4 separate regions of the Homo sapiens genome follow, and all the other regions are linked to region 2. The links come from fine-mapping of genetic effects on gene expression. A gene starts in region 2. Each other region holds a variant in brackets. All regions are shown on one strand. Distances are from middle to middle. Region 1 overlaps CSNK1G1 (casein kinase 1 gamma 1). Region 2 holds the start of SNX1 (sorting nexin 1). Region 3 overlaps SNX1 (sorting nexin 1). Region 4 overlaps SNX1 (sorting nexin 1).

What was found.
Region 1: its variant is fine-mapped to the expression of SNX1 in blood mononuclear cells (TOPMed, PIP above 0.99).
Region 3: its variant is fine-mapped to the expression of SNX1 in whole blood (INTERVAL, PIP 0.97).
Region 4: its variant is fine-mapped to the expression of SNX1 in whole blood (TOPMed, PIP 0.97).

The regions. Positions count from the first base shown.
Region 1 is chr15:64,312,178-64,317,410 of GRCh38, forward strand. All of the region lies in intron 1 of CSNK1G1 (casein kinase 1 gamma 1), which reads right to left. Among named protein-coding and RNA genes, the nearest start is that of CSNK1G1, 41 kb to the right of the region's middle. The variant A/G (reference allele first, on the strand shown) is at 3,096.
Region 2 is chr15:64,093,183-64,098,443 of GRCh38, forward strand. It overlaps SNX1 (sorting nexin 1), which reads left to right and starts at 2,800. Exons shown (of 15, transcript NM_003099.5): 1 at 2,800-2,990. The coding sequence starts at 2,832. CIAO2A (cytosolic iron-sulfur assembly component 2A) reads right to left here and starts at 656. Exons shown (of 5, transcript NM_032231.7): 1 at 463-656. The coding sequence starts at 586. RefSeq lists enhancers at 1-293, 339-1,068, 2,784-2,903, 3,044-3,123.
Region 3 is chr15:64,123,562-64,128,561 of GRCh38, forward strand. SNX1 (sorting nexin 1) reads left to right here. Exons shown (of 15, transcript NM_003099.5): 6 at 2,518-2,659; 7 at 3,613-3,691; 8 at 4,170-4,245. Among named protein-coding and RNA genes, the nearest start is that of SNX22, 26 kb to the right of the region's middle. The variant C/G (reference allele first, on the strand shown) is at 2,461.
Region 4 is chr15:64,135,160-64,140,159 of GRCh38, forward strand. SNX1 (sorting nexin 1) reads left to right here. Exons shown (of 15, transcript NM_003099.5): 13 at 1,171-1,251; 14 at 1,702-1,773; 15 at 2,409-5,000. The coding sequence ends at 2,459. Among named protein-coding and RNA genes, the nearest start is that of SNX22, 14 kb to the right of the region's middle. The variant A/G (reference allele first, on the strand shown) is at 2,735.

The sequences.
Region 1 (5,233 bases), 220 kb after region 2:
CCAAAGTAATTTATGGATTCAATGCTATCCCCATCAAGCTACCATTGACTTCCTTCACAGAATTGGAAAAAACTACTTTAAACTTCATATGGAACCAAAAAAAGAGCCCGCATAGCCAAGACAATCCTAAGCAAAAAGAACAAAGCTGGAGGCATCACGCTACCTGACTTCAAACTATACTACAAGGCAACAGTTACCAAAACAGCATGGTACTGGGACCAAAACAGATATATAGACCAATGGAACAGAACAGTGGCCTCAGAAATAACACCACACATCTACAACCATCTGATCTTTGACAAACCTGACAATAACCAGAAATGGGGAAAGGATTCCCTATTTAATAAATGGTGTTGGGAAAACTGGCTAGCCATATGCAGAAAACTGAAACAGGACCCCTTTCTTACACCTTATACAAAAATTAACTCAAGATGGATTAAAGACTTAAATGTAAGACCTAAAGCCATAAAAATCCTAGATAAAAACCCAGGCAATACCATTCAGGACATAGGCATGGGCAAAGACTTCATGTCTAAAACGCCAAAAGCAATGGCAACAAAAGCCAAAATTGACAAATGGGATCTAATTAAACTAAACAGCTGCTGCACAGCAAAAGAAACTATCATCAGAGTGAACAGGCAACCTACAGAATGGGAGAAAATTTTTGCAATCTATCCATCTGACAAAGGGCTAATATCCAGAATCTACAAAGAACTTAAACAAATTTACAAGAAAAAAACAAACAACCCCATCAAAAAGTGGGCAAAGGATATAAACAGACACTTCTCAAAAGAAGACATTTATGCAGCCAACAAACATGAAAAAATGCTCATCATCACTGTCATTAGAGAAATGCAAATCAAAACCACAATGAGATACCATCTCACGCCAGTTAGAATGGTGATCATTAAAAAGTCAGGAAACAGATGCTGGAGAGGATGTGGAGAAATAGGAATGCTTTTACACTGTTGGTGGGAGTGTACATTAGTTCAACCATTGTGGAAGACAGTGTGGCAATTCCTCAAGGATCTAGAACTAGAAATACCATTTGACCCAGCAATCCCATTACTGGGTATATACCCAAAGGGTTATAAATCATTCTACTATGAAGACACATGCACACGTATGTTTATTGTGGCACTATTCACAATAGCAAAGACTTGGAACCAACCCCAATGTCCATCAATGATAGACTGCATAAAGAAAATGTGGCATATATACACCATGGAATACTATGCAGCCATAAAAAAAGATGGGTTCATGTCCTTTGCAGGGACATGGATGAAGCTGGAAACCATCATTCTCAGCAAACTAACACAAGAACAGAAAATCAAACACCGCATGTTCTCATTCATAAGTGGGAGCTGAACAATGAGAACACATGGACACAGGGAGGGGAACATCACACACTGGGGCCTGTTGGGGGGTGTGGGGCTAGGGTAGGGATAGCATTAGGAGAAATACCTAATGTAGGTGATGGGTTGATGGGTGCAGGAAACTACCATGGCACGTGTATACCTATGTAACAAAACTGCATGTTCTGCACAGGTACCCCAGAACTTAAAGTATAATAATAATTTTTTAAAAGTAAGAAAAAAAATCTCCTGCTGGGAGAAAAAAAAAAAAACCCCAAAAACCAAGAACTTTTTTTTTAATCTTAAAAATAAAAGTTAGAAGGTTGTAGGTATATGGCAAAAAAAAAAAATTAATAAATAACTATTCAGTGAGTGCCTCCTATGTGCCTAAAACTGGGTTATTCCACTGAGGATATAACAGTGAACTTGACATATACAGCTCCTCTGCTCACAGAACTTCTAGTGTAGAGAGGGCCTCACAAACACATGAATTAAAAAAACACAAATCGGGACGATGCTACATATCAAAGATCTGCTAAACTAAGGATTACGGTGAAATCAAAGAGGAAAGTTTTATTTTATTCATATTTAGAGATGTGTTCTTGCTATGTAGCCCAGGCTGGAGTGTAGTGCCTGTTCACAGGTGAGATCACAGTGCAATGCAGCCTTGAACACATGGGTTCAACAGATTCTCCCACCCCAGCCTCCTGAGAAACCGGGATTACAGGCATGTGTCACCATGCACAGCATGGAAGAGTTTTAGATAGAGGGGTGGGAAGCCTTTTATTAGAAGACACATTTATTTTTTAAAAGTTTAAAAATTGTATGTTGACAATTTATAATTATATAAATGTAAGGGGTACAAAGTAATGTTATAATTTATGAATATAATATATAATAATTAAATCAAGCTAGTTAACATATCCATTACCTTAAATACTTAACATTTTTGTGGTAAGAATATTTGAAATTTATTCTCTCAGCAATTTTAAAATGTACAAAAACTATCTTCACCACACTGTACCACAGAATTAAAAAAAAAAAAAAAAAACATATCCCTCAGCTGAGATTTTGTTCCCTTTAACCATGGTCTCACCACTTTCTCAACCCTCCAGGCTCTGTAACCACCATTCTATTCTCTGCTTCTATGAGTTCAGTTGTTTTAGATTCCACACATAAGTAAGAACACGCGGTGTTTGTTTTTCTGTACCTGGCTTATTTTACTTAGCATAATAAAATATTCTCCAGTTCCATCCAAGTTGCCACAAATGACATAATTCCTTCTTTAAGGCTGAATATGTATATGTGTGTGCGTGTGTGTGTACATTTTCTTTATTCATTCATGTGTTGAACACTTAGGTTGATTCCATAACTTGGCTATTGTGAATAATGCTGCAATGAACATAAGAAAGCAGACATCTCTTCAACAAACTGATTTCAAATCTTTTGGATAAATACCCAGAAGTGGTATTGCTGGATCATGTAGTAATTCTATTTTTAGTTTTTTGACAAACCTCCATACAGTTTTCCATAATAGGAATACTAACTTACATTCTTACTCTGTCAGATGGCAATTACAAAAAAGACCAAAGATAACAAGTATTGGTGCGGATGAGAAGAAGAGGGAATCCTTGTACACTGTTGTGAAAACATAAATTAGAAGCCACATTTAAACAGTGTCCTCAAGGAAGAGATGGAGCCAACCTTGTCAAGAGCTAGGGAACACAGTTTCCAGAAAGG[A/G]AAAAGCAGCAGCCTATTAAGAAAGGCTTTTGGTGAAAGAAGACCAGCAACGCCGGGGATTACAATGAGCAAAGTAAAGAGGTAGCAGGAGTCCATTGTTCAGGATTTTATAGGTCACTGATAGTCCAATAAGAAGACATTTAAGAATGGTACTGACATTTATGCTTAAAGGGATTTAGCTTTACAAAAAGCATTTACATTTTCTAAACGATTGACTCTAGGTGCTGTGTGACCTATTCAGTGGAGTCAAACTGGAATTACTTGCCTTAGTAAAGGCAATTATTCCTTTTCAAAAAGGACGCTGAGCCTCACAGAATTATGTTCACTGACTAGGTCACACTGTCAAACACAGTCAAAGGAGTCCAAAAAGCCTGAGCCCTCCTCCCTTCTGCCACACCAACCAAATGATCCTGCTTGCCCACTCACTTACCCATTCATTCCCACTGAGCCAAAAGTGCACTGGCCTCACAACTGTCCTCCTGAAACAATTTTTTTTAAAAAATCTGTGCAGTGATTTTAACATGTCCACAAATTTTTTTCAAAGGAGCTAATTATTCCTCCCTCGAGAGACTTAAAATTTCTTCTAACACACTGAATGCTCTTCCTCACTTGAATACTATATTTATGCCCCCTTTCTGGGGCAAAATTTCTCCATGGGTCAAATCTGTGTTTTTTAAAAACAGCTTTATTAAATATAATTCACCTACTATACAATTTATCTATTTAAAGCACACATTTGGGTTTTGCTGTTGTTGTTGCTTGTTTGTTTTAACAGATAGGGTCTCGCTCTGTCAGCTACGCCGGAGTGCAGTAGCATGGTCAGAGCTCATGGCAGCCTTGAACTCCTGGCCTTTAGCAATCCTCCAACCCCAGCCTCTCAAAGCACTGGGATTAAAAACATAAGCCACTGGCACTCAGTTTTGCTTTTTAAAACAAACAAACAAACAAACAAACAAACAAACAAACAGAAAAAGTTAATGCAGGTTGGGCTCGGTGGCTCACGCCTGTAATCCCAACACTTTGGGAGGCCAAGGCGAGCTCATCACTTGAGGCCAGGAGTTCAGGACAAGCTTGGAAAACAGGGCAAAACCTGTCTCTATTAAAACTACAAAAATTAGCCGGGCATGGTGGCACACGCCTGTAGTCCCAGCTACTTGGGAGGCTAAGGCAGGAGAATCAATGGAACTCAGGAGGTGGAGGGTGCAGTAAGCTGAAATCATGCCACTGTTCTCCAGCCTGGACGAGAGAGCAAGACTCTGTCTCAAAAAAAAAAAAAAAAAAAAAGAAAAGAAAAAAAGTTAATACAGCTTGTCTATCATAAAGGGAGGAGACCACCCCTCATGTTGTCTTATGCCCAATTTCTGCCTCCAAAGAAAAAAGAAGTAAAAACTAAAAGGCAGAAATGAAATTCACAGGCAGACAGCCCAGCTCTGAGCCCTGGGCCTGGTAGTTAAAAATCAAGCCCTGACTTAACTGCTTGTGTTATCTATAGATTCCAGACATTGTATGGAAAAGCATCATGAAAATCTCTGTCCTGTTCTGTTCCATTCTGAATACCCGTGCATACAGCCCCCAGTCACGTACCCCCTGCTTGCTCAATCGATCATGACCCTCTTACGTGGACCCCCTTACAGTTGTAAGCCCTTAAAAGGGACAGGAATTGCTCACTTGGAGAGCTTGGTTTTTTGAGACCTAAGTTTGCTGATGCTCCCGGCCGAATAAAGCCCTTTGGTGTCTGAGGGGTTTTGTCTGCGGCTTGTCCTGCTACATCATAATTCGTATTATTGCTGCTATTATCATGTCACAGCCTTTAGAGACATGGAACTTTTTTTTTGAGATGGAGTCTCGCTCTGTCGCCCACGCTGGAGTGCAGTGGCATAATCTAGGCTCACTGCAACCTCCGCCTCCCAGGTTCAAGCAATTTTCCTGCTTCAGCCTCCTATGTAGCCGGGATTACAGGTGTGCGCCACTACGCCCGGCTAATTTTTCTATTTTTAGTAGAGACAGTGTTTCACCATGTTGGCCAGGCTGGTCTCAAACTCCTGACCTCAGGTGATCCGCCAGCCTTGGCCTCCCAAAGTGCTGGGATTACAGGCGTGAGCCACTGTGCCCGGCCTAAAGTTTTCTATAGAATTTTT
Region 2 (5,261 bases):
TGACCTTGGGCCAGTCCCCAACTCGACTGTCACCCACAAGCGCCCTCAGCGGTAGCAAGAGTGCGTGTCCAGGAGCTAGAGAACGAGGCTCTAGTAGTGCAATCAGGCCAGCTTTGCTTCCTAACCAGGCACCCTAGACTTGTGGTCTCCCCACAAGTCTTGGAATGGTTACTAAGACGTAGGCCACACGTGGAGAATGAAGCTTTTAAGACCTCTGGGTTCGGCTTGCCCCAGGTTTACGAAGAGCCCAGTTCCCAGAAAGACCCACACCCCCCACGTGACTTAGGACCCCGAAGAAAGCGCCTGCTACGCCCCGGACAAGATCTGGCCAAAAACAAACAAACAAACAAACAAAAAAAAAGGTCTCCCCTCCCAGCCCTCAGGTGAGGCCATCATCCCCGCACCCCTCAGCTCCGGCCTGCACCTATAACGCCAAATGCTGTGCTGGGTAAAATTAATTACCATAAACTTCTAGCGCTTTCTCTTCCATGATCCGGGGCTGCCGGGCAGCTCCCGGCTCAGAGAGGCCGGAGAGCCACAGGACTCTGCTCAGCGTCCAGGAGAGCAGCCCGGACACCCGCTGCATCTTCACGCTCAGCCATCCCTGGCGACTGTCCCAATCGCGCCACCGTCTCTCAGCAGCCTCGGGATTGATCAACTTCCTGGTCTTCAAATGGGCCGAGACAAGCCTAAAGGTTCAGGAGAGCAGAGAAAAGGCGGGGCCAGACGGAGTAGCTCGAAGGACCTAGGGAAGGGGCCTCAAGGACTACAAGTTCCAGCGTGCTTTGCTCGATTTCGGCGGGACAAAAACAATCTTCGCGGCTCGTCAGCACATTGCATGCTGGGATGCGTGAGCTATTTTCTTCGGAAGGCAGCGAATTGTATTCTGGGACTTGTAGTGTCCGCCTGGTAGAAGTGGATGTAACGGTCTGTTAACCGCGACTGACTCACTCAGTATCCGTGATAAGTTAAAGATGAATCCTGAAGGGGTAGGGGAAAGGAGATCTTGAGTTCTCCAGCACGGAGACTCTTTACAATTATTTCTCCGCGGGATCCGCTGACAGCCAACGTCTTTCTTACTTCCTGATCGGACAGGAAGTAGGTTTCAGTTGCTGTGAAAAGGGATGTCATGGGAAGCCAGTGAGGTAGTCAGGTATGGCATGGGGAGGGCTTTTTGGCTTTCTCGTCTCCTAAGGGACTCAGTCCAGCACAGCTTCCCACCTTTGAACGAATATTTCTGCTAATGGCCTCCAAAGACAACTTAGAACATAAGTTTTCCCGTGTCTAATGTGTACAGTGGTGACATAATGGAGATCGCCATCCTTAAAAGTGTATCTTGGCCGGGCGCGATGGCTCACGCCTATAATCCCAGCACTTTGGGAGGCCGAGGCGGGCGGATCACCTGAGGTCAGGAGTTCGAGACCAGCCTGGCCAACATGGGCAAACCCCGTCTCTACTAAAAAATACAAAAATTAGCTGGGCGTGGTGGCAGGGGCCTTAATCCCAGCTACTTGGGAGGCAGAGGCAGGAGAATCGTTTGAACTCAGGAGGCAGAGGTTGCAGTGAACCAAGATCGAGCCATTGCACTCAAGCCTGGGGGAGAAGAGCGAGACTTCCCTCAAAAAAAAAAAAAAAAAAAAAAGTGTATCTTAAGCCCTCTGGTGTTCGTGGGTGTGATGGATGCCAGTAACAAAATCGATTTTATTTTATCCATCCATCCCTCCGATCAAATTTGTAGGTACTAATTTGCCATAGGTGATCCATAGGCATGGAAGATACAAAGATAAAACGCTGCCCCCGCCTTCAAACAGCTCACATGACCTGTGAGGGAGTCCATCCCTGAATTTGCAGTTACAACCAAACTAACTAAACCTCTTGTCAAAGTTGGTGACAAATGCCATTTCTATTGAGAAGATAGGATTATCTTGCAGAATTGTCCCATGCTAACATGCCCATTTATCTTTAAACTCCAGTCTTGTTTGTCTAGTTAATGTAGGCCTTAGGATCACCAGACAATGAATTGCTTAGGTCCCAAGGAAATTTTGGTCAGGGTTCAATAATTTCCCTGCCGTCTATTCCACTCCACTTACTCCACAGCAATTGAGAGGATAATCCTAACATTTTTCCAGCCAAATCTAGGACACTGAGGCCTCACTTCATCTGTGAGGCCTCCCTACTTCTCCAAGCAGAATTGATTATCTCTTTCCCTGTGCTCCCACAGGGCACCATAGCATTGAACATGTCGAACTGTCGATTAAATACCTGATTTCTGTATCTGAAACTCACAGCAAGGTGCCAGGCATACAGTAGATGCTCAGTATCTGTATTTCTTAATGAATTAACTGAATGTTGCTCAAGGAATAAGTGGTGAAGCTTTCTTCTAGTCTTGTTCAGATACCTCAATCGAAATATTTATTGACTCTCTGTGAGGGCATTGTGCTTGGCATGGGTAGATGGCATGTAGAGGTTTTCAAACATTTTAGTGACACTCCTTCATTCAGACGAACTCTTAGAAGCCTGTTGGATAAAGCTATCCAGAGCACAAAGGGCCCTAGAAACCTGAGCAGCCCCTAACTCCTACTTTTCTGCCCCTTTGGCCCCACTCGTTAATATCTCAGCATCGCGAACCAGGCCTCGGATTTGCTGCGCAGCCTCAGCTGGCCGGGTGCCGCCCCGCCCCCAGCGCCTAAGCCCCGCCCCTAGGTCTCCGCCCCTCGGATCCCACGGGGTCCCTTGCGGCCCTCCCACTCCTCGCACCGTTGGATCGCTTTGCTCACGGCGCTATCTCTCGATAAAGTTGTTGTTGCGGCTTCCGCCGCGGGTGGAAGAAGATGGCGTCGGGTGGTGGTGGCTGTAGCGCTTCGGAGAGACTGCCTCCGCCCTTCCCCGGCCTGGAGCCGGAGTCCGAGGGGGCGGCCGGGGGATCAGAACCCGAGGCTGGGGACAGCGACACCGAGGGGGAGGACATTTTCACCGGCGCCGCGGTGGTCGTGAGTTTGCACCCCTCGGGGTAGCAGGCGGGAGGGCACCCCGAAAGGGAAGAGAGGCTAAGCGAGAATCGGGGAGGTTGGGCAGAGTGGGCCCGGTGAGACCTTGCCTCGGTGTCAGCAGTCCGGGCCCCGGGGACCCTGGATGTGCTCGAAGCGGTAGAGCTTGGCTTCCCGGCCCCCAGGCGGGAAGAGTAAAGAATGAGGGTTGTGGTGCCTTCGTCGGCTAGCTCCCTAACAGCCGAGAACCGCCGACGCCGTCCTTTGACCCTGCAGTGTGGTGACACTCCACGGATCCACGGGGTTATTTTGCAGGTCGTGTCCTGCCAAGGCAGATTCAGTAGGACGGAATAAGCGAATGGGATGCAGACCTTTCCCCCGTCTTACTGCTTCTAAGATGAATAGCGTTATGTGGACTAGCCTGGGGTGGTGACCCGCCCACCAGTTCTTTCTTTAGCCCAGCATTTACCGATAATAACCAAAGGCCCTTTCTGGATCTTAGTTTACAAAAGTTATGTTGATTCTTCTGATCTCTAGGAAAATCAGGCCAGAGGCTGGTGGACAGAAGGCACTGCCAGATAAATCACTACATAGATCAGAAAGCTTTCTCCTTTTTAAAGGGATGTGTTCAAGTGCCCACGTACCTCACTGGGAGCAAATCTGAAATGTGATGAGGAAATGGTGTTTCCCGTAATGTTACCGGTAGGAGGCCCTTGAGTGTAGGTTGTCGAGGTTCTTGGCATTTTGAACAAATAATTGGACAAAACGCACAAAATAACAAAGGAATGAAACACAAACGAAGCAGCGAAAGCAGGAATTTATTAAAGCGAGAAAGCACCCCACAGGGTGTGAGTGGGCCGGAGCAAGGGGCTCAAGAGCCCACTTACAAAGTTTTCTGGATTTTAAGTGCTCCTTTTATGGTTCCTATGGGTTACCCCTTATCTGGATGAAGGATTTGGTCTGTGGCTAAAGGCCGAGGTGAATTGGCGTCCTGTGCAGATGAACGGATGGTCCCTGCTTGGCCTGCGGCCAGTCTAAGGCACTCTCCCTTTCCATGTGAGACGTGGTGGATGGGGAGGGTTGCAGGGATAGTAGCCTTTGATCCTTTGCCACTCGGGCGTGGGCAGATGGGTTTTTTCCTTTTGGTTTAGCTTTAGGAAGTTGGCCTTAATTGGCCTTAGGTTCCCTGCCCCCAAACCCAGGGGGTTCCTTTTGGGAATTCAGCTTTGGGAAGTCAGCACGAATTGGCCTTAGATTCCTTGCCCCCAGACCTTGGTGTTTTCTCTTTTAGAAAGTTAACGTAAGTTGACCTCAGATTCCCTGCCCCCAAACCTTGGTGTTTTTCCTTGATTCAGCATGAATTGCCCTTAAGTTCCCTGCCTCCAGACCCTATTCTCCTGCCTCAGTAATAAATATCCGGGTCTCTAATAAGAGTTAGGTATTAGAAAAAAATAATCTTTGTAATGTGGAAATCAGTAATCAGTTATGGAACCAGTAGAGATGTTTTGGGCTATTTTATGAGAATATTTACTCATACCACTTGGTATAGGTTGTTCCAGGCTGTAAAATTCAATGCTGGGTCTGTGAATTTATCTGTTTGGCATAATGCTTCTCTTCACAGTAGCTACTCAGTGTGTAACCAACTAAATAAAACAGCTATAAATTCTTTATGCAACATGTGGTCTGAAAAAGTTTGAGGCTTTCCTCATTTGTGTCAGATTTTCCCTGTCCTGTATTCAGAAATTGAGTCCATAATCTCAGCTCATAAGGTGCTTGATAATTCTAATATAACAACTAAAACTGTCAAATGAAGTCTCTTATTCTGAGAAATAATAAGTCTTTGTGACTGTCATAAAACAGGAAACAATTTTTGTTTGTTTTTAGAGACATAGTCTCCCTGTGTTGCCCAGGCTTGTCTTGAACTTCTGGGCTCAATGGATCCTCCCTTCCTCCTAAGTAGCTGGGATTGCAGGTGCATGCCTGAGAAATAATAATTCTTGCCGCTAATTTAGTCCTTCTGTATGTTATTTTAAGTAAGTATTTAGTCTGTTCCTTTAGTAATTCTTCTATAAGTCATGGAAGACAGCTACTGTTGGTAACTGCTGGAATGATGTGCAGACTGAGAATATGAAAACAGAAACTCTGACACTGAAAGTGATTGGTCACATAGGCAAATGTTGATTTATTTTCCAAAAAGGAACCTGGAAGAGTGAGGAGTTATTTTCTAGAGTTAACCTGAAGCAGTGGCCGAGTGCCATGCACACGTGTAATCTC
Region 3 (5,000 bases), 30 kb after region 2:
CCTGCTGATGACCATCTTCATAGACTTTGGTGCTTATACCAAGGTCATCATTCAGATTATTTCTGGGTATCTCCTTTGTTTCTTTGCCAACATCTTCATGTTTACTCAAGATAGAGCAAGCCTGCATCCCCTTGGTAATCTCATCTGGGTACTCCAGACTGAGTCTTTTTAATACTCTTCCAGAAAGCTAACATTTCAGTGTGATTCTATTAACTCGTGGTATATCTGATACAGCCCCATCCCTCTTAGAGAACCATGTGGTTTGGAGCTAGATTCACAGATTGCCCTAAACCATCTTTTAAAATCTTCAATGCTTCTGAGGTTTCAGAGAGCTTTTTTAAATACTTAACCTTTTGCCCCTCTAGTCTGCTCTTCTTTTGTATATAATATTAATGCATACAAAATGTATACAATGTTGTATACAAGTTAGGAAGCATAATAAATGAAGCCCTAAACTTACCACTAGTCTTAAAGTTGAGTATCATTGGATCCACCTGCGTGTTTTTCCATCATATCCCCTGCCTCATACCTTAGAGGTGTCCTTTCTCCTGAGTTGTCTCTCATTTCCTTTATAAGAAATCTTTACATATATATATATATATATATATATATATATATGACTGTTTTGCTTTGTTTTGAGTTTCATAAAAATAGTATCATGGGGGCCGGTCACGGTGGCTCACGCCTGTAATTCCAGCACTTTGGGAGGCTGAGACGGGCAGATCACAAGGTCAGGAGATCGAGACCATCCTGGCTAACACAGGGAAACCCTGTCTCTACTAAAAATACAAAAAAATTAGCTGGGCATGGTGGCAGGCACCTGTAGCCCCAGCTGCTGGGGAGGCTGAGGCAGGAGAATGGCGTGAACCCGGGAGGCGGAGCTTGCAGTGAGCCGAGATCGCGCCACTGCACTCCAGCCTGGGCGACAGAGGGAGACTCTGTCTCAAAAAAAAAAAAAAAAAAATAGTATCATGCTGATAATTGTGCTTGCTTTATTTAGCATTGTTTCTCTCACCCATCCTTGATGGTCATGGCTGTAGTTAGTTCATATACCACAAAATATTTATGTTTTCCTGTTGTGAACATTTTCTGCTGTCAACATGTTTCTGGTTTTTGTAACTGGGAACTTTCTTGCACATCTCTAGTACACACGTAGAAGGATTTCTCTAGAGTATGTAACCAGGAGTAATTCCCGTGGGTCATAGGTACTGCAAATATTGGACACAAGGAATACAAACTGTTTTTTAAAGTCTTTGTACCAATTTGTACCCCATCAGCAGTGTATAAAAGTTCCCATTGATTCACTTCCTTGCCAGCAATTGGTGAGGCCAACCTCCTTAAATTTTGCCTATCTGGTGAGTTTAAAGTGAACTCTCATTGTGATGTAGCCCTAACTTTTTTGGTAGAAATCTGCTTTGTATTGTCTCTCTACTACTTGTTGGCCTGCGTCCTGTGAGCTCTAGATTATGATACTTTAGAGGTTACTGTCTACAGCTTAGACATTTCATCCAATTCCCACCCTGCTCATCACCTGCTTCCCCTTCTTAGAAGCACTTTTTGTCTGTCTTTAGTTTGGCTGCTGTAATTCCAGCAGCTAATACCCTTAAATAAGTCAATGAGGCTTGGCGCAGTGGCTCACGCCTGTAATCCCAGCACTTTGGGAGGCTGAGGCAGGTGGATCACCTGAGGTCAGGAGTTCGAGAGCAGCCCGGCCAACATGGTGAAACCCCATCTCTACTAAAAAACTATAAAAATTAGCTGGGCCTGGTGGCAGGAGCCTGTAATCCCAGCCACTCAGGAGGCTGAGACAAGAGAATTGCTTGAACCTGGGAGGTGGAGGTTGCAGTGAGCCAAGATTGCACCACTGCACTCCAGCCTGGGTGACAGAGTGAGACTCCATCTCAAAAAAAAAAAAAAAAAAAAGCAGTGAAGAATGAGCTGGGCATGGTAGCGTGTGCCTGTATTCCTAGCTACTTGGGAGGCTGAGGTGGGAGGATCGCTTAAGCCCAGGAGTTTGAGGCTGCAGTAAGCTGTGATCGCACCAATGCACTCCAGCCTGGGCAACAAAGTGAGATCCTGTCTCCAAAAAAAAATAGTCAATAAAAGATGAATGGGTTACTGGTTACTATAGAATTCTAGCTTTAAACTAGAACTGAACATTTCTTTCTTTAGAACAAGAGTTCTTAACCTGGGAATGAAACTGTATTTGAATTTTTTTTTCTCAAGGGTCACCATGGCTTCAGATGTATTTGAATTTAATTGATTGCCTTTATAATCCTATATATTTTTTGCATTTAAAATCATTATTCTGAGAAGAGCTCCTTAGGCTCCCAGACTGCCAAAGGGGAACTATAGTTTTAAAAAGTTTAAGACTCTCTGCCTTGGAGAAAGTTATTTGCCAGGTGACTGAAGGGCAGGGATCTGGGAAATGGGTTTCTTTAATGTCAATAGGATGACTTT[C/G]AAGATACCATCCCCTATTTGGAATGAAATTGCCTTGTGTTTTTTCCTGTCCCCAAGACAAGCTTACCATTGTTCAGAAGCAAACAGTTTGCAGTAAAAAGAAGATTTAGTGACTTTCTGGGTCTTTATGAGAAGCTTTCCGAGAAGCACTCTCAGAATGGCTTCATTGTCCCTCCGCCCCCGGAGAAGAGCCTCATAGGTAAGCCTGTGGTCTTTCATTCCACTTGGATTGTTTTCCTTTGCATTCTCTCCAAAATTCACTCACTGTTCAGTATATGAGACTACTTCTATTAACAGTCTTGTGGTTAGAAAAGAGACATTTCCAGTGTTTTCCTACACTGGAGGTCTAGAGAAAAATAGCATATTTTGGCATGTTCTCCTTGGGTGCAGTAGGAGCTCTGGGTTTAGCCTCCAGAGATGTTCGTTTGTTTTCTGTTGGTCTTCAGGAGTCTTACATGATTGCGGTTGCCTCCAGATTGAAATAGACTACATTGGATTAGGGGTCAGAGGAAGAAACCTCTTCATTTTGTTTGTTTGTTTGGTTGGTTTTTTGGTTTTTGTTTGTTTGTTTGTTTTTGAGGTGGAGTCTCGCTCTGTCACCAGGTTGGAGTGCAGTGGCGCGATCTCAGCTCACTGAAACCTCCACCTTCCGGGTTCAAGAGATTCTCCTGCCTCAGCCTCCCGCTTAGCTGGGACTACAGGTGCCCGCCACCATGCCCAGCTAATTTTTGTATTTTTAGTAGAAACAGGGTTTTACCACGTTGGCCAGGATGGTCTTGATCTCTTGACCTCGTGGTCCGCCCGCCTTGGCCTCCCAAAGTGCTGGGATTACAGGTGTGTGCCACTGCGCCCGGCCAGGAGCCTCTTCATTAACATCAGTTGATGTTTGTACTCAGGGTTCCATGGCCGCCTTTTTAAGAAAATGTTTACTCTGCAAGTCCTAGAGTTTAGAACCTTCAGCACTTAGAGACTAGTTTTCAAAAGTGGCTCTCATGTAAAGAACCTTTTGTTCATCCCTGCATATAACATAGAAGTGGCCTTAGGCTGTGTGCTAGCCTCACTGCCTTTCCTCCTGTTGACACTTAAAAAAAAAAAAGATTTATCCTCTTCATGATGATTTATGGTTATTTTGCTTTTTAAATTCCATTCTAGGGATGACAAAAGTGAAAGTTGGGAAGGAAGATTCTTCTTCTGCAGAATTTCTTGAAAAACGGAGGGCCGCTTTAGAAAGGTAAGTGCCATGCAGCCATTTTCCTGAATAATGTGAGGACAAATGAAAAGCTGAAAAGTGAGTCTAAATGACGAGACAGTCCATTGAGTTAGAGATGAAACGTGAATAAATTGAAGTTGCACACCTCCATATTATCTCTTAACTTTTCCTGAGTCGCTTATTTTCCCACCTTGAGAATAGACCATCTTCTGTTTTTTCCCCATCCTGAGTGAGCAGGCAGTCATATTCTTAGACAATCAATCAAATATGAATGGCTCTGAGGTTTCTTTCTGACCAGTTATTTTTCCCTCCCTTTTTGGAAATGTCAGGAATGTGAACTTGAATATGCTTACAAGGAGAGACCTACTTAAGTACCTTATCTTAGGGTACTTTAAGTACAAAAAGTACAGAAGACATGGTATCACTGCCAGCACTGTGTGACGCCCAGAACCTTCTGAGGCCAGCTCAACTAACCAGATGATAACTGCTTACCTTTTAGGTACCTTCAGAGGATTGTAAATCATCCTACCATGTTACAGGACCCTGACGTCAGAGAGTTCTTGGAAAAAGAAGAGGTTAGTATTCAGTGCAAACTGAATTTCATAATTTATATCTGCCCCTAGTGAAACGAAACTAGTTCATTCCAAAAATATGTGAGCACTTAACATGCCTAGTACTAGACTGTATCCTAGTTTTGTGTGAACCCCTGAGAGTGACAAGTATTTTTCAGCCTTTGAAATAAAAGAAGCTCTGCCCGAAGTCAAAAGCAGTTGGTTGTAAGGGTCAAATAGCAGCCTAGTATTGTCTTACTGGATCAACACAGTGATCTATTTGGCAGGTCCTTGGCATGTTGTAGGTTACTTCTTGGCTCAGATTGAATGTATATTTTATGCCAGGCGGGTCACTGGTTAACAGTTACCACAAACCACAGAACTACCATGTAGGAAAAGTGTTGATTGAAGTAGACAGTCTCTTTCACAGGCTATGCGTAGGCTAGTCATGATTGTCAAAAACTGAAAACAGCCCAATTGCTAACAGTGGAAGAATTAAGTAAAATATATCAATATAACCAAATACTTGATTCTCATCATAAACAAAGTATACAGAAATGTTAGTACATGGACATGTATGTTAAAAGAATTACAAAATTTGAAACATGAAATAGCATATAAATACAGCTGTAGAAACATGTAAGTCATTAAGGATCAAAAGAAACACTGGAGTGAAATGTTTTATCTCACAGGAAAGCAAACTAGAAGGAAGTAAGTGACTGGGTAGGGCTATCATTTTGCTTTAATTTTTATTTTTAAATTTTTCTTTCATTTGTATG
Region 4 (5,000 bases), 42 kb after region 2:
CAGGCTGGAGTGCAGTGGCGCGATCTCAGCTCACTGCAAGCTCTGCCTCCTGGGTTCACGCCATTCTCCTGCCTCAGCCTCCCAAGTAGCTGGGACTACAGGCTCCTGCCACCACACCTGGCTAATTTTTTGTACTACCGTGTTAGTAGCCAAGATGGTCTCGATCTCCTGACCTTGTGATCCACCTGCCTCGGCCTCCCAAAGTGCTGGGATTACAGGCGTGAGCCACCGCGCCCGGCCGAGGTCAGGAGTTTTAGACCAGCCTGGCCAACATGGTAAAACCCCATCTCTACTAAAAATACAAAAAATTAGCCAGGGCTGGGCACGGTGGCTCACGCCTGTAATACCAGCACTTTGGGAGGCCAAGGTGAGTGGATCACGAGGTCAAGAGATTGAGACCATCTTGGCCAACATGGTGAAACCCCGTCTCTACTAAAAAAAATACAAAAATTAGCTGGGCGTGGTAGCACCCACTTATAGTCTCAGATACTCAGGAGGCTGAGGCAGGAGAATCGCTTGAACCTGGGAGGCGAAGGTTGCAGTGAGCTGAGATCACGCCACTGCACTCCAGCCTGGCAACAGAGCAAGACTCTGTCTCAAAAAAAAAAAAAAAAAAATTAGACGTGATGGCACACGCCTGTAGTCCTAGCTACTCAGGAGGCTGAGGCACGAGAACCGCTTGAACCTGAGAGGCAGAGGTTGCAGTGAGCCAAGATCGCACCACTGTACTCCGGCCTGGATGACAGAGCGAGACTCCATCTCAAAAAAAAAAATCTTGGCAGGAGGGGTCCTGGCTGGGTCTTTGAAAAGCTACCTAGCTGATTCAGATATGCCTTCTCGTGAGAACTAAATTAAGTTTTCCAGGCCTTTCAGCCCTGCTGGTGAGTACCTAAACTGGAGGCTGCTGGCATGTCAGAGCCTTCTTGAAGGACCACACTTGGTCCCAGATGCCTGAAACACAGGCATCTCTTTTCCAGTCAGCCCCTAAAGTAGCCTTCTGCCGGACTCTGACTTACGTGTGGAATCCTCTGTGACACCTCATCTTACCCACAGGGACAGACAGACATAATGATCAATTGAGCCCTCATATGTAAAATCGCTGTCCAAATGTGAAGGCTTAATAATGGTGCCATAATATGAGGTGATCCTTTCTTTCCTCTTTCTTCCCAGTGGGAGTCTCGGGTGACTCAATATGAAAGGGACTTCGAGAGGATTTCAACAGTGGTCCGAAAAGAAGTGATACGGTTTGAGGTGAGATAGAAAATCCTACTTCTCACTTAGCATGCAGTGCTTGTTTTGGGAGTACTCTTGGTGTTGTCCAACTCTGTTGGGTAAAGAGAGAGGTGCCAGTAACTTGGCAGTTCTCGTGAGCAGGCGTGGCCTTCTTTGGGGGGGTGTGTGCTTGATCCTAGGAACAGTGGCAATCTTACACTTGTGGCTGGACCACAGCAGTTAAACACAAATCTTGCAGCTGCCATATACCCTCGGTCCCCTGTCGTTTCTCCTCCACTTCCCATCTCCTGCCCTCCAACAAAGCCTTTCAAGGCCTTGGCAGACCCTCTTTGGCTGGAAATTACAGCTGTTCCACCTGCTGCCTCTACTTTCTGAGACTGTGTTTGGCCTTGGTCAGCAATAAACACCACCATCCCATCGAAAGGGAAAGCAAAAACTGGATGGTCAGTGTAGAATCTTGTCTCCTAGAAAGAGAAATCCAAGGACTTCAAGAACCACGTGATCAAGTACCTTGAGACACTCCTTTACTCACAGCAGCAGGTATGTAAGTTGTGTGTGACCTTCATCCTCTACTGCCTGCTCCAAAGGCCAGCTGCCTCCTCGGGGCTTCTGCAACAAGATGTGCAGGCCCTGCTTCTGAGGGGCTGGGCCCTCCTATAGTCCATCATTGAAAATAGGTCCTGCTGCTCTGACATGGAGCATCCAACAGGGTCTTTTACCAAGCAGGAGGGCCCAGGTCTGCTGCCCTCATTCTGAGGTGAGTTAGTTTTTGAGGACAAACCCCATCTCCCTGTAACTGCTTACCCTTCGAGGAGCCACCCCATGGTACCACCTGGCCCTCCTGAGGCTGAGGCCTCATCGGTATGTGAAACAGTGGCCCCACTGTGAGGAACTAACTGAGCCAGGCAAAGCTGTGGCCACCACAGGGGTGCTCCCTCTGGGGTGGAGCCAAGACTGTCTTCAGAGACTGCCCTTGCACTTGGGGCTCAGTAACTGCTGCCTTCCCTGTCGAGAGGGAGGTGTGAAGGTCATGTGGCCTGTGCAGCTGCTCGGAGCCTGCCTTTGTGTGGCAGGCGCTTGGGGAGCGCCAGGGTACTGTGCTTGATTCCTCCCAGGCTGGCTTAGGCTCTGCCACTAGGTGGGGGCACTTGCTTAATGTCCCCACTTCTTTGCAGCTGGCAAAGTACTGGGAAGCCTTCCTTCCTGAGGCAAAGGCCATCTCCTAATGGACCAAGGACCCCAGAGCCCACCTGTGTGACGCTGCCTTTTTATACACTGTCCTCCTCCACCTTGATGGACCCCTAGTGATGCATCCTGCCTAGGCTGGACTTAACCCCTTCCTCCCTGTCCCCACGACCAACTGTCCCCAGTTACTCTAACCGTTATTTCATTTAGCTTCCATATATATTTTCTTACCTAAGAGAATAGTTTCCTGCTTTAAGCAAAAGACCTACAATAGGTGGTGGAATTATGGGATGGGGTGGAGTATTGATATAAATAT[A/G]TAAATACAAATGTATATTTTTCAGGATGTGGTTTAGGAACTGGGAATAACGTTTTCTGTTACTCCTGATGGTGCCATGAAAAGGTTATGTAATAAAATATTTTAAAATCAGGTCACATGACTCAGAATGTTGGTGGTTTTTGCTTAGGCTGGGGAGCAGTTGGGAATCAGGTCTGGAATACTCCTAACCAAGAAGTTGCCCAGGTATAGTAAGTTTTTCTCTACCGTTCACAAGTTTTGTGCTGCTGCTTCCCTCTGGAAATGGGGTTTCTTTCTCTCCGCCTACCTCAGCTACCTGTTCTGAGGGTCTCAATCTGTTTCGTATTCCCACTTCTTTAGGGAAGGAGTTTTAAAAACATCTCTTAAAATAAGAGGAGCAAAATCTATTAAAACCTATTCTCCTGCAAAGGAGGCAGAGACTTTCTCTCTCTCTTTTTTTTTTTTTTTTGGTGTCCCTATCATTAAGCAAGAGCCTTTCTCTTTTATTCTTCCTGCTTCCCTAAGCTGCTCAGGGTTCTCTGAGTCTTGCCCTCTGATGGCAAGTCTTATATATAACTAAACCTATTTTTGTCACCCATCAAAACACATCCTCAGTAGACTGTGTGAAGGTGTGAAGGTCTGATAATGACTTGATGCTTTGTCTCCATAGACATGAAAGCCATGCCCTCTGCCTCTAGATAGGGTGATCCAAGAGCTCCTGAACCTTAGGAGGTTCAAAGAAGCTCTACTGTCTGTGCCCAGGAGGTAGCCTGCCAGCAAGAGCCCTCAGGAGTTGCACACACAGCCAAAGGGTGTTCACACAGATCTCTGCCGGTCTAGCCAGGGGAGGCCAGAGTCTCGTCAGTCAAGGATGGGCTTCCCCCTTAGCTGTGTCCACAGCTGCTCAAGCTATACTGGTCAGAGTGGGCTTTGAAGCTCCTTTGTGAGCTCGAGCTGCTGACTGCCACTATGGGAGCCTTGCCACCTCCAGCCCCTCCATCCCAAAGACGCTCCTGCCACTGGGGCCCCAGGTCCTGCTGTATCAGTTCTCTTTGGTGGGGGGCTAAGGTTTGGGGCGAGGCAACCTGAGACAAGAAAACGCAGTAAACATTCTGATTCCCTGTACACAGATGCAGCACCAGGGGAAGGGCCAGTGGTGCAAGTATTTCTTTTTAACAGGTGAAGTTTTTGGAAAAAGTCACTCTCCCTACCCCTCAGTATCCTTACCATCAACTTTGGTTTTATCCTTCCAGTCTTTATTATATGCTTGCTTTTACATAGTTGTAATAATATACACATAAAGTATTTTGTATCCTGCTTTTATCATTCAACATTGTACATGTTATAAGCATTTTACTATATTGTTATATATCTTCACAAAGTTGATCTGTAAAGCTGTGTAATTTGAAGGCATCCATAGGGTGACTGTACCATAATTTTGATTCATCCCTTGTTGTTGGATTCTTGGTCAGGGGTTGTTTGTTTTGTTTTATTGGTAACTTTAAAATTTTGAATACAATTTCAGATTTACAGAAAAGTTGCAGGAATATCACAAAGAACTCCTATATATCTTTTATCCAGATTTACTGAGTGTTTACATTTTATCCCATTTGCCTTATCTATATTTCATGTTGCATTTTCTTAATCATTTGAGAATAATTTGCACAGATACCCCATTATGCCCAAAACAGTATGCATTTCCCTAAGAACAGGACATTCTCTTCTAAGAGAAGAAGAGAATTACTTTAAGCATTATTCAGTATTTTTTTAAGTATTATTATCAAAATCAGGAAGTTTAACAGTGATTTAATACTGTTATCTAACCCATGATTCATATTTAAATTTTGCCATTTATCCCAATAATGTCCTTTGTAGCCATTCTTTTACCTTGTGCAGGATCATGTTACATTTGTAAACGTGTGTCTCTCAATACTGCAGATTCCTCAACTTTCTTTTGTCTTTCATTACCATGACATTTTTGAAGAATACAGGCTATTTTGTCGAATGTTCCTCAGTTTGGATTTGTGTGATGGTTCCGCATGACTAGGTGAGGGTTTTGCATTCTGGGTGGGAATATCACAGAAGCAGTGTGTCGTCAGTGCGTCGTAATCAGCATATAATGTCAGTTGGTCCCATTAATGTTGTTAACTCTGTTCACCGCTTAGGTTGGTGTCTGCCAGATTTCATTTTAAATTTACGATTTCCTCTTTGTAATTTACAAGTAATTTGTGGGGAGATACTTTGAGACTATATAAGTATTTTGTTCCTCATTCACCAGTTATATAGT